2 separate regions of the Homo sapiens genome follow, and region 2 is reported to be linked to region 1. Evidence: microRNA targets listed by miRTarBase, many of them from high-throughput screens and not tested one by one. Region 1 holds a microRNA gene; the other region holds the end of a gene's coding sequence.
The links. The annotated mature microRNA hsa-miR-4748 reads GAGGUUUGGGGAGGAUUUGCU and lies in region 1 at 2,546-2,566, opposite strand. An mRNA with a match to its seed (bases 2 to 7 or 8) in the 3' UTR can be bound and repressed. Matches are read on the target gene's strand: a 7mer-m8 pairs with bases 2 to 8, a 7mer-A1 pairs with bases 2 to 7 and ends in A, and an 8mer does both.

Region 2: the mRNA of PHACTR2 is a reported target of hsa-miR-4748. The part of its 3' UTR that is shown has no 7-base or 8-base seed match.

The regions. Positions count from the first base shown.
Region 1 is chr19:10,777,446-10,782,828 of GRCh38, reverse strand. MIR4748 (microRNA 4748) reads right to left here and starts at 2,575; the gene lies at 2,494-2,575. All of the region lies in intron 5 of DNM2 (dynamin 2), which reads right to left. RefSeq lists an enhancer at 5,125-5,383.
Region 2 is chr6:143,823,003-143,828,385 of GRCh38, forward strand. It overlaps PHACTR2 (phosphatase and actin regulator 2), which reads left to right. Exons shown (of 13, transcript NM_001100164.2): 13 at 672-5,383. The coding sequence ends at 687. Among named protein-coding and RNA genes, the nearest start is that of LTV1, 18 kb to the right of the region's middle.

The DNA of each region.
Region 1 (5,383 bases):
CTCAGAAACAACACAGAGGGTGCGAATGCACATGGCAGCTGCGAAGAGCAACATTAAGTATTTGGAGGAAGGAGAGCTCACATCCAGCCTGTGTGCGCAGGGACAGAAAAAAGCTTTGGGGCAGATGAAATCTACAAGCTGAGATTCAAAGATAGGTGAGAAAAAAATCTCGGCCGGGAGCGGTGGCTCACGCCTGTAATCCCATCACTTTGGGAGGCTGAGGTGGGTAGATCACAAGGTAAGGAGCTCGAGGCCACCCTGGCCAGCATGGTGAAACCCCGCCTCTACTAAAAATACAAAAAATTAGCCGTGCATGGTGGCGCGTGACTATAGTCCCAGGTACTCGGGAGGCTGAGGCAGGAGAACCGCTTGAACCCGGCAGGCGGAGGTTGCAGTGAGCCAAGATCATGCAACTACACTTCAGCCTGGGCGACAGATCAAGACTCTGAATAAAAAGAAAGAGAAAAAGAAAAAGAAAAAGAAAAAAAATCTCAAGGCCAGGTGCGGTGGCTCACGCCTGTAATTCCAACACTTTGGGAGGCCGAGGCGGGTGGAACGCTTGAGCCCAAGAGTTCCAGACCAGCCTGGGTAACATGGCAAAACCCCATCTCTACAAAAATATACAAAAATTAGCGAGGCGTGGTAGCACACGTGTATAGTCCCAGCTACCTGGGAGGCTGAGATGGGAGGATCACCTGAGCCTGGGAGTTCGAGGTTGCAGCAAGCTGTAATCACCCCACTGCACTCCAGCCCGGGCAACAGAGCGAGGCCTTGTCTCACAAGAAAAAAAAGAAATAACATCTTAAAAACAAGAGCAATAGGGAAGAGCTAAAATCCACTATCAAACGAGTATATTTTAAACAGTTGGGTACATCAGGGTATTCATGTCCAGAGAGATCAATGGAACTGAAAAGAAAGTCCAAAACTACACCGAGAAGGAGGTAGAACTGAAAGTTAACGCTTCAGTATATGGGGGAGAAAAGCTGGATAATTCAATACACACTGTTGCAAAGAATCCAAGTGGAATGCCTACCATTGCACTCCTGGCTAGGTTTTTGTTTTGTGGGGTTTTTTGTTTTGAGACAGAGTTTCACTCTTGCTGCCCAGGCTGAAGTGCAGTGGTGCAACCTCAGCTCACTGCAACCTCCACCTCCTGAGCATCTGGGATTACAGGCGTGCGTCACCACGCCTGGCTAATTTTTGTTTTTTTAGTAGAGACGGGGTTTCACCATGTTGGCCATGCTGGTCTCGAACTCCTGACCTCATGATCTGCCCGCCATGGCCTCCCAAAGTGCTGGAATTACAGGCGTGAGCCACAGTGCCTGGCCTGTGCTCCCTTTTCTTTGTAGTGGGGTTGTGCATGTTTCTCTTGAGAAGCAAGGGAGAGGTGCCGGTCATCTATCCTGTAGGGTCTTGTGGGATGTGACTGCTCTTCATCCTCGCCAGATCTCTCTTGGATCCAAGAGGGAGGAGGGAAACGAAGACATGCCAAGGTGAGGTCACAGTAGGAGACCCAAGATCTGAACCTAGATCCCTGTGAAGCCAGAGTCACCATCACCTGTGTGACAGCACAAAGAAGGAAACAGCAGGGGCCAGTAAAAAGCATCTGGCTTGGATTTGGCTTGATTTACTTAATTAAGAGATGGAGTCTCGCTCTGCTGCCCATTCTGCATTGCAGTGGCACAATCATAGCTTACTACAGCTTTGAACTCCTGGGCTCAAGCCATCCTCCGGACTCAGCCTCCTGAGTAGCTGGGAGTACAGGCACGTGCACCATCACACACGGATTTTTTTTTTTTTTTTTTTTTTTAAAGACAGAGTCTCACTCTGTCACCCAGGCTGGAGTACAGTGGTGCAATCTCAGCTCACTACAACCTCTGCCTCCTGGGTTCAAGCGATTCTCATGTCTCAGCCTCTCGAGTAGCTGGGATTACAGGCATGCACCAACACACCCAGCTAATTCTATTTTTAGTAGAGCTGGGGTTTGATCCACCCGCCTTGGTCTCCCAAAGTGCTGGGATTACAGGCGTGAGCCACTGTGCCCAGCCTGGATAATTTTTTAAGAGAGAGATGGGGTCTTGCTGTGTTGCTCAGGCTGGTCTCAAACTCTGGGCCTCAAGCCATCCTCCCAACTGTGCTTTCCAAAATCCTGGGGTTATAGGCATGAGCCACCACGCCTAGCCTGGGTTCCCGTAAAGGAGGAGGAGTTGTGAGTCATTAGTACGCCAGGAAAAAGGGTCCAGTGGGAGGGCTTCTGAAGCCTGAGGTCACAAAACGGGAGCAGGCCTACAAGTGAGCTGAGAGTGGAAGCGCCTTCGTTCTTAGAAACAGGAAGGAAGGCAGAGAAGGGCAGCTGTGGACATCAGTGAGTCAGGAGGAAGGGGAAGAGGCCCATATCACCAAATCCTCAGCCTGGCTAGTGCCCACAGACCCCAAAGGCCCTTAGGATCCAAGATGGAGGCCTAACAGTGTCCAAGGGCAGCCGGGTCGGGGTGGCTGTAGTAGGGCGTGGGGTTGGGTAGGGTCTGCTTTCCTCTCTAGCACCAGCAAATCCTCCCCAAACCTCAGCCAGCCACAGATTTGCTTCTCAGCCCCGGATCTTCACAGCTAAACAGGGTTTTGAATTTAGCCCTGACAGCATTCCCCTGGGATCCGGGGTCGCCTCACCACTCAATATCTCAGCAGTGCTGGGGGATGCTGGCAACCAAGGTCTGAACTTTTCCCCACATCTATCTCAGACATCGAGGTGGAAAACCCAGGAGTAAAAGAAATGCTCTAAATGACTGCGGCTAAGCATGAAGGGAAAGGCAGGAGGTGCCCGCAGCTTAGAGTAGATGCCAGAGGGGAGGAATGGCTTTAAAAAAACACAAAAGAAGGCTGGGCACGGTGGCTCATGCCTTTAATCCCAGCATTTTGGGAGGCTGAGGCGGGTGGATCACATGAGGTCAGGAGTTCAAGACCAGCCTAGCCAACATGGTGAAACCCCATCTCTACTAAAAACACAAAAATCAGCTGTGTGTGGTGGCGAGTGCCTGTAATCCCAGCTACTCAGGAGGCAGAGGTTGCAGTCAGCTGAGATTGTGCCCCTGCACTCCAGCCTGGGCAACAAGAATGAAACTCTGTCTGAAAAAAATAAAACAAAACAAAATAAAACCTAGCCAGGAGCAATCGCACATGCCTGTAATCCCAAATACTTGGGAGGCTGAGCTCGGAGGATCACTTGAGCCTGGGAGTTTAAGGCTACAGTGAGCTATGATTGTCCCAGTGCACTCCAGCCTAGGTGACAGAATAAGACATCGTCAAAAAAAAAAAAAAAAAAAAAAAAAGAAAGAAAGAAAGAAAGAAAGAAAGAAAAAAACTTATAACAGCAAGAGTGAACCCTGATGTCAACCATGGATGTGGGGTGGGGTGGTGACAATGGGTCAACGCAGGCTCATCAGTTCTAGCAAATGCACCGCTCTGCTGGGCACGTTGAAAGTGGGAGAGGTTACAGATGTGTGGGCTATAGGGCTGATAGGAAATCTCTGTATCTCCCTCTCAGTTTGGCTATGAACCTAAAACTGCTGCTCCGATAAAATAAAATGCTTGAAAAATTTTTCTTTTTTTTTTTTTTTGAGACAGACCCTTGCTCTGTGGCCCAGGCTGGAGTGAAGTGGCGCCATCTCAGCTCGCTGCAACCTCCACCTCCTGGGTTCAAGCGATTCTCCTGCCTCAGCCTCCCGAGTAGCTGGGACTACAAGTGTGTGCCACCACGCCTGGCTAATTTTTTGTATTTTTAGTACAGACAACATTTCACTGTGTTAGCAAGGATGGTCTTGATCTCCTGACCTTGTGATCCGCCTGCCTTGGCCTCCCAAAGTGCTGGGATTACAGGTGTGAGTCACCATGCCCGACCCAAAATATTTAAAATATTTTTAAAATAAAATAAAAAATACTTAGGTTACTCCTATCAGAAGATCTGTACCTGAACTTGAACCTGAACCTGATCTAATTACCAGCTAACAGAGAACAATAATTGGCCAAATCCCAAATGTGGGATGTGGTCTGGTTTCTTCCACAAATGAATGGTATAGAAAAAAACAAATGGGATGGCAAGGGGAAGTATTTGAAAAGAAATGTGGGTATTTATGTGTAAAATGCTACAATGCCTAGGATTTATAGAATTTTTTTTTTTTTAGAGGCAAGATCTTGCTCTGTTGTGCAGGCTAGAGTGTAGTAGTGTGATCATAGCTCACTGCAGCTTCGAACTCCTGGGCTCAAGCAATCTTCCCACCTCAGCCTCTTAAGTAGGTGGGACTATAGGTGTATGCCACCATGCCCAGCTAACTTTTTAATCTTTAGTAGAGACAGGGACTTGATATGTTGCCCAGGCTAGTCTTGAACTCCCAGCCTCAAGGCATCCTCCTGCCTCAGCCTCCCAAAGCACTGAGATTACAGGCGTGAGCCACCTCGCCCAGCCAGTGCCTAGGATTTGTGTTAAAATCTTCCAGGAAGATGGCCGGGTGCGGTGGCTCACACCTGTAATCCCAGCACTTTGGGAGGCCGAGGCGGGTGGATCACGAGGTCAGCAGTTCGAGACCAGCCTGGCCAACATGGTGAAACCCTGTCTCAATTAAAAATACAAAAATTAGCCACGCGTGGTGGCTGGCACCTGTAATCCCAGCTACTCGGGAGGCTGAGGCAGGAGAATGGCATGAACCTGGGAGGTGGAGGTTGCAGTGAGCCCAGACTGCACCATTGCACTCCAGCCTGGGCAACAGAGACTCCGTCTCATAAATAAATAAATAAATAAATAAATAAATAAATAAAATGAAAAAATAAAATATTCCAGGAAGAAAATAATAATAATAACCACCGAAGCTGGGGAAGCCATCCACGAGGATTCTTTGAACTTTTTTCCACACTTTTGGGAATGTTTGAAAATGCTCATAATAGGCCGGGTGCGGTGGCTCATGGCTGTAATCCCAGCACTTTGGGAGGCCAAGGCAAGTGGATCACCTGAAGTCAGGAGTTTGAGACCAGCTTGGCCAACACAGTGAAACCCCGTCTCTAGTAAAAATACAAAAACTAGCTGGGCGTGGTGGTGCCCACTTGTAATCCCAGCTACTCAGGAAGCTGGGGCAGGAGAATCAGTTGAACCTGGGAGGCGGAGGTTGCAGTGAGCTGAGATTGTGCCACTGTACTATAGCTTGGGTGACAAGAGCAAAAACTCCGTCTCAAAAAACAAAAAGGAAAAGGAAAAGGGAAGGGAAGGCTCATAATAGAAAGTAATAAAAAAATTAATTAAAGTTATAAACCCTGGGGAGCTGGGAGCTGCAGATTCACCAGTGGCTGTCTGGGGGAAGTGTGGCTGCGGGTGAGTTTAGTTTCCTCTTTCTATACA
Region 2 (5,383 bases), not on the chromosome of region 1:
GACTAATAGGAAATGCTGGATGAGGGAGAGAAATGAATTGCTAATCTGAGGTTTCTAGACCAAAAATATTTTTAAAGATAGAATATTAAATAAGACAAAGTGCAAAGGCAGGTTAACAAGGAAAGCTTTGTATAGTTGTGGACATGCTTAGTATATACCTGTGGAACATCTGGGGGGAAGCGCCCTGTGGGCTTTTGGAAATTCAAGTGTAGAAAGTAGATTTGGAGTCGTCAGCAGGAGATGATGAGAGGCTGAAGCTAATGAAAAAGTGTCTATTTGTTACTGTGCTTTTATAATACAGACGAGGTGTACCAAAATCCCTTTGTGAAACATCTCCCTCTGCTTGATAAAGGTTAGAGCACGATGCTCAAGAATAGTGATGTTTTCTGTCTTGGTTGCTGTGTAACTTGAATACTATAACCAGCATCTTTTATATAAGGTTTCCTTATATGCTTATATGTAAACATATATATAAGGAAAGCGTTTATATATGCTTTCCTTAATAATATTTGTAACAGTATTTTGTTATGACAGAAATTTGTAAACAGTAATTCAGTTGGGGGATATCTGGGGTACCTTTTCATTGTAAACATGACCACGCCTTATTCAGCTCACTGCATGCAGAATGTGCTCCTAGGCCACAGGCTTATAGTTTCTATTTCTTACTCCAGGTTTCATCGTCCATAACGAAGAGTGAGACTATTTGGAAACAGAGACTGATCATCTTTGGGGGAAGCCCTGCTTCCTGAAAACCTGATATTGCACTGGGATTTGAATGTGTGTGTTTCCGTTTAACTTGTGGTGAAGGAAGTGTGTGACTCAGCTTGGCTGGGAAGTGCTCCTCACCTGTGTGGCCCAGATGGCTCCAACAAGCAAAAGGAAGGATGCAGTGACTCTTGCTGCCCAGAATGCACAGCGATGGTAAGAGACACCGTGGATATTCTTCATCAGAAGCTTTAATCAAAGAAGATGAGCAGAAGACAATCACTGGCTCCCTGTTACCAGAAAGCCAAATTTTATAATGCGGGTGAAAGAAAAATATAGATTAAAATTGCTGGGCACTGAAAAGGGGTGGGAGTTGGAAATCAGAAAGAAAGAGAAATATTTCATTATGTTAATGAAGAAAAGAGAAAATTGAAGCATAAATGTATTTTTGAAGTAGTTATTCGGTAGCTGAGAACTTATTAAGGGATTTAGGAATTTAACCTCCTGATGTGGATTCCTCAAAGACTTGATCGGAGAATACTCTTGTTTCACCATTATGTTGGTACAGTATAGTACCATTATTTTATGTTGTGCCAGTGAATCCAGTTGCCAGAAATAAGTCTGAATGTTTTCATGCATCTTTTTCTTAAATGCAAGAGCTTCTACTGACTCTTAACAAGCATGCTTACCCAAATTTTGTTGCATGCTTTTAAGTAGCATTAGCTATGCACACTTGACATTTTTAAATATCCCTTTCCTAGTGTACCAGCCTTCACAGGATAAGAGGACTGGGAATAAAGTCAGATGTAATGTGACCCTAGAAAACTGTAGCAAGCTTCAGAAATAAATCTTTTGATCTTTCCCTATCTTGATTAGATCCAAAGTCAAAGCAACCATACTTCACCTAGAGAAGACAGTATTGGCAATCATGACACCTGTAATAAAAACTTGAATCCAAAGTCAAAACTTAAGCAAGATACAAATGTGCTGCCTGCAGTTAGTCCTGCATGGGAATAAGGACTAGTTATTTTTTTAGTGCTGCATTTTTTTAAAGTTGGATTGCTGCTATTTAAAAAAAAAAAAAGGACACAGATCAAAAAAACACCCAAAGGCTTAACAGAACATGGAAAGTTCCCACTAAGTTGTGTGTGAGGAAATCCTCATCTTGTATTTTAAGAATCTGCAGATGGCATCCATAGATACAGTACAGTATTTACTGTCAATGCAAAAGAATCAGTGAGGTTAAAGTAGTGGAAGTTTTCCCTATGAGCCTACAGTCTGTATTGTTTACATTAAGAAACTCTCTATTATTGTGTTGCTATTTTCCATGGAGTCACAGGCACACTATGACTTCTGCTCCCAAATACATATGACCATATGTAAATACCACCTTGCATTTCATTGTTCTTCACAAGTGCTTTGTGCCCCTTTAATTAAAAACACATGAAATGAATAACAAAACAAGACCCAAATAGAGTTTATTTTATTCTCAGAGTTTGGACTACAATTTTCTAAGATGTTTCTGGTTCAAGACTGTCATTTTCTATTTCAACCGAAAAGTAAGCATTTAACCCGGTGAATAAATGTAGATCCTGCCATTCATTGGTATTTTAAAGAACCACTTGAAATCGGATCATTTTATTTAAAAATAAAAAATGTTAATGCCAGTTGGCCTACTATAAAAAGCCAGGACCATGTTAGAATTAGGAAAAGTAACCAGCATTACTGCACCTCTTGTTAGACTCTGTGCATTAATAAAACACACCTAGAGTCTGTTGTCATTTCACTAATAGGATAAGACAAATTTTTTGCTTTGAAAAAATTTTTCTGCATGCCCAGGTGTCTGTCTCTGGCTGAGGTTTTGTCTATTTTACAGTGTTTCAATCCAGCCATAAAAATTAACTTGTGATTTTTTTTTTCCCAAAGTCATGCTTTTCCTTAATTATATTTTTATTTTATTATTTTAGTGTCTTGAGAAAAATACCAAGAGATATAATGTTTCTTTTAATTGTCTATGCTTAATCATCTTTAAACACTTTTTAAATTTCTAACCACAAGACCTCTCTATAATGGTAAATGTAAGACATCACCATTTTATCACTCAAAGTATGTTATTGAAAGTTTCTATTTGGTTGATAAAAGGAACAATTTTTTCCCACTTTTGATGCCTGTGATGCAATTTTTTATTGCCTACAATGAGATACACTTAGTACAAAAAATGAAAATCTGGTATTTCAAAATTGCATTTCTTGTATAATAGGTCAGATTTATTAACTACTCATACTTTTTCTTTACACTAATCGATACATTTAGAAAAAATTTTCTAAGTTAGAGACAAGTTTAAAAGTAAAAAAAAAAAAAAATTAGCCACTGCTAGTCTACTGTTTAGGTAATCGGAATCACCAATTATTTTATTAGAATGATGGCTTGAGTAAAAAGCTGTGGAAAGAATTAAAGGATTATGAGCTAAGCTGTATTTTGCAGAATATGGTTCTATTTTAGTAGAGCAGAGATGAGACATATCCCCACCGGCCACCCAGCCAGAGGTCTCCTACCTGGGGGCCCTAAAGGGATGCAGAGGTCTGGCCCACCCTCCGTGCATAGGCACCTCTGTCCACCACCAGCGTTTCAGCAATCCAACCAGTAAGCATATGCTGTATAGGAAAAATAAAAGTGTGTGGGAATTGGATTTCTTTTGTTGTAACACAATTCCAGGTTTTTGGCTATTTAAAGTTTGACATTAGGCTGACATCGAGGAAGTAAGTGGGTTTTCCTGAGTTCCCAAGATATGATTAAGGAAGAAAACAAACCCATCTCCAGGAAGATCCCAGGCAGGAAAGAACTAGACAGATGTAGAAACCAAAGTGACCATTTTAGTTTTTTTATTGGAGAATAAAACATTAATATTAGGGTATTAAGAAGATGCTCAGCAAGCTTGATCAGAATCTTCATGGTCATTACCAATCAGTCTGACAAAATAGTTCTCTGGTAGTCAGCATTCATTTAAGGCAGCTTGCCTGATAATTTCCTGTGTTATGTGAAGTGTCTTGCACTTTCACATGTTAGCTATAATTCCTTAAATTACTTAACTGAAATCTGTAATAGAGAACCATTTTGGCATTTGAACAGCTATTTTACATGGAGAAAAAGCAAACACATCTGTTTGCTTTACCCAGAAAAACTGACTTTCTGGTTTCATCTTCATATTGTTTAGTAGCATAATGAGAGTAGTCCTTTATCTTTCTCTAATGTTAGTAAATATATTCTGTTAGTAGGAAGTTCTGAAATTGAAGGGAAAATATATTTAAGGAAATAAAGGAATTCAATACACCCTTCAAAAGTCACCAAATACTGAAAATAAGAGATGAGTCCTTAAAACCTGAGTCAAAAAAGGTCCAGTTTTACAGCCTGCAATTAATTCAGGGCTGCGTTGGCATTAAAAAAGAAAATATATATATATATATATATATATATATATATATATATATATATGTATATTATATATACAGTAGCTTACACTTAAAAGAGGAAAAATTTGCATTAACATTGCATATTCTGATATGTACCATATTAACACATAACAGGCATTTTATTTATGCTTCATAGAATCAGACAGACACAACTTTCAAAAATCTTACTGTATTCACAATAGAAAAGGGTAGTCTTGTCTACCACAGAGGAGTATGTCCACACTTAATAATGAAAACTTTCTTCCTTTCCTGCCCAAAAATTTCTTCAGTCTGTTATTATTTTTAAGTGCCCCTTGCTGCAAATTTCAAACAGAGCAAGAAATCTTCCTCAGAGTAGGTGGTATGAAATTAAACTAGTACAATATATATGAATTCATGTCATTTACCCCTGAGTATGGTAGAATTGTTAAAGCATTCTTAAATTCCAATTATATGAAGCCTATCATTACTAGGAAAAGTATATTCTTTGGGATAAGAATTAATTTCTTCACACTATTAGAGCATGTTGTGAGTAGTAAGGAACTACTTAGATGCAATTTATTTACAGAATTGTCCCTTGACCTCTTGAAATGGCTAGATCTTTCACTACTGTGTAGGTAGTCTCTACTTACTGGTAGGATAGATTACATTGCTTTACTGGACAAAGCAGAATGAACTTATATAACTAAAATATGTCCTATATTGGCTGGGTGCGGTGGCTTACACCTGTAATACCAGCACTTTGGGAGGCCAAGGTGGGTGGATCAGTTGAGGTCAGGAGTTCGAGACCAGCCTGGCCAACATGGTGAAACCCTGTCTCTACTGAAAATACAAAAAAAAAAAAGTATCTGGGCATGGTGGCTTGTGCCTGTAATCCCAGCTACTTGGGAGGCTGAGGCAGGGAAATCGCTTAAACCCGGGAGGTGGAGGTTGCAGTGGGCCCAGATCGTGCCACTCCACTCCAGCCTGGGAGACAGAGCAAGACTCCATCTCAAAATAATAATAATAGTAATAATGAATAAAATAAAATAAAATATGTCCTCCAGGGAAAAGCAATGACAGAGTAATCACCAAATTAATAGGAACATCTTTCTAGAGAAAGTACATGCCCAGTTAGTTCAAACCCAGGTTTCAAAGAAGTAGCACTGGGCTCTACTGTAAAGGCAGGCAGTGACCAAGAGGTGGTGGGGAGAGAGGTAGAGTACCCTCAAATCATTCCCATTTTCACT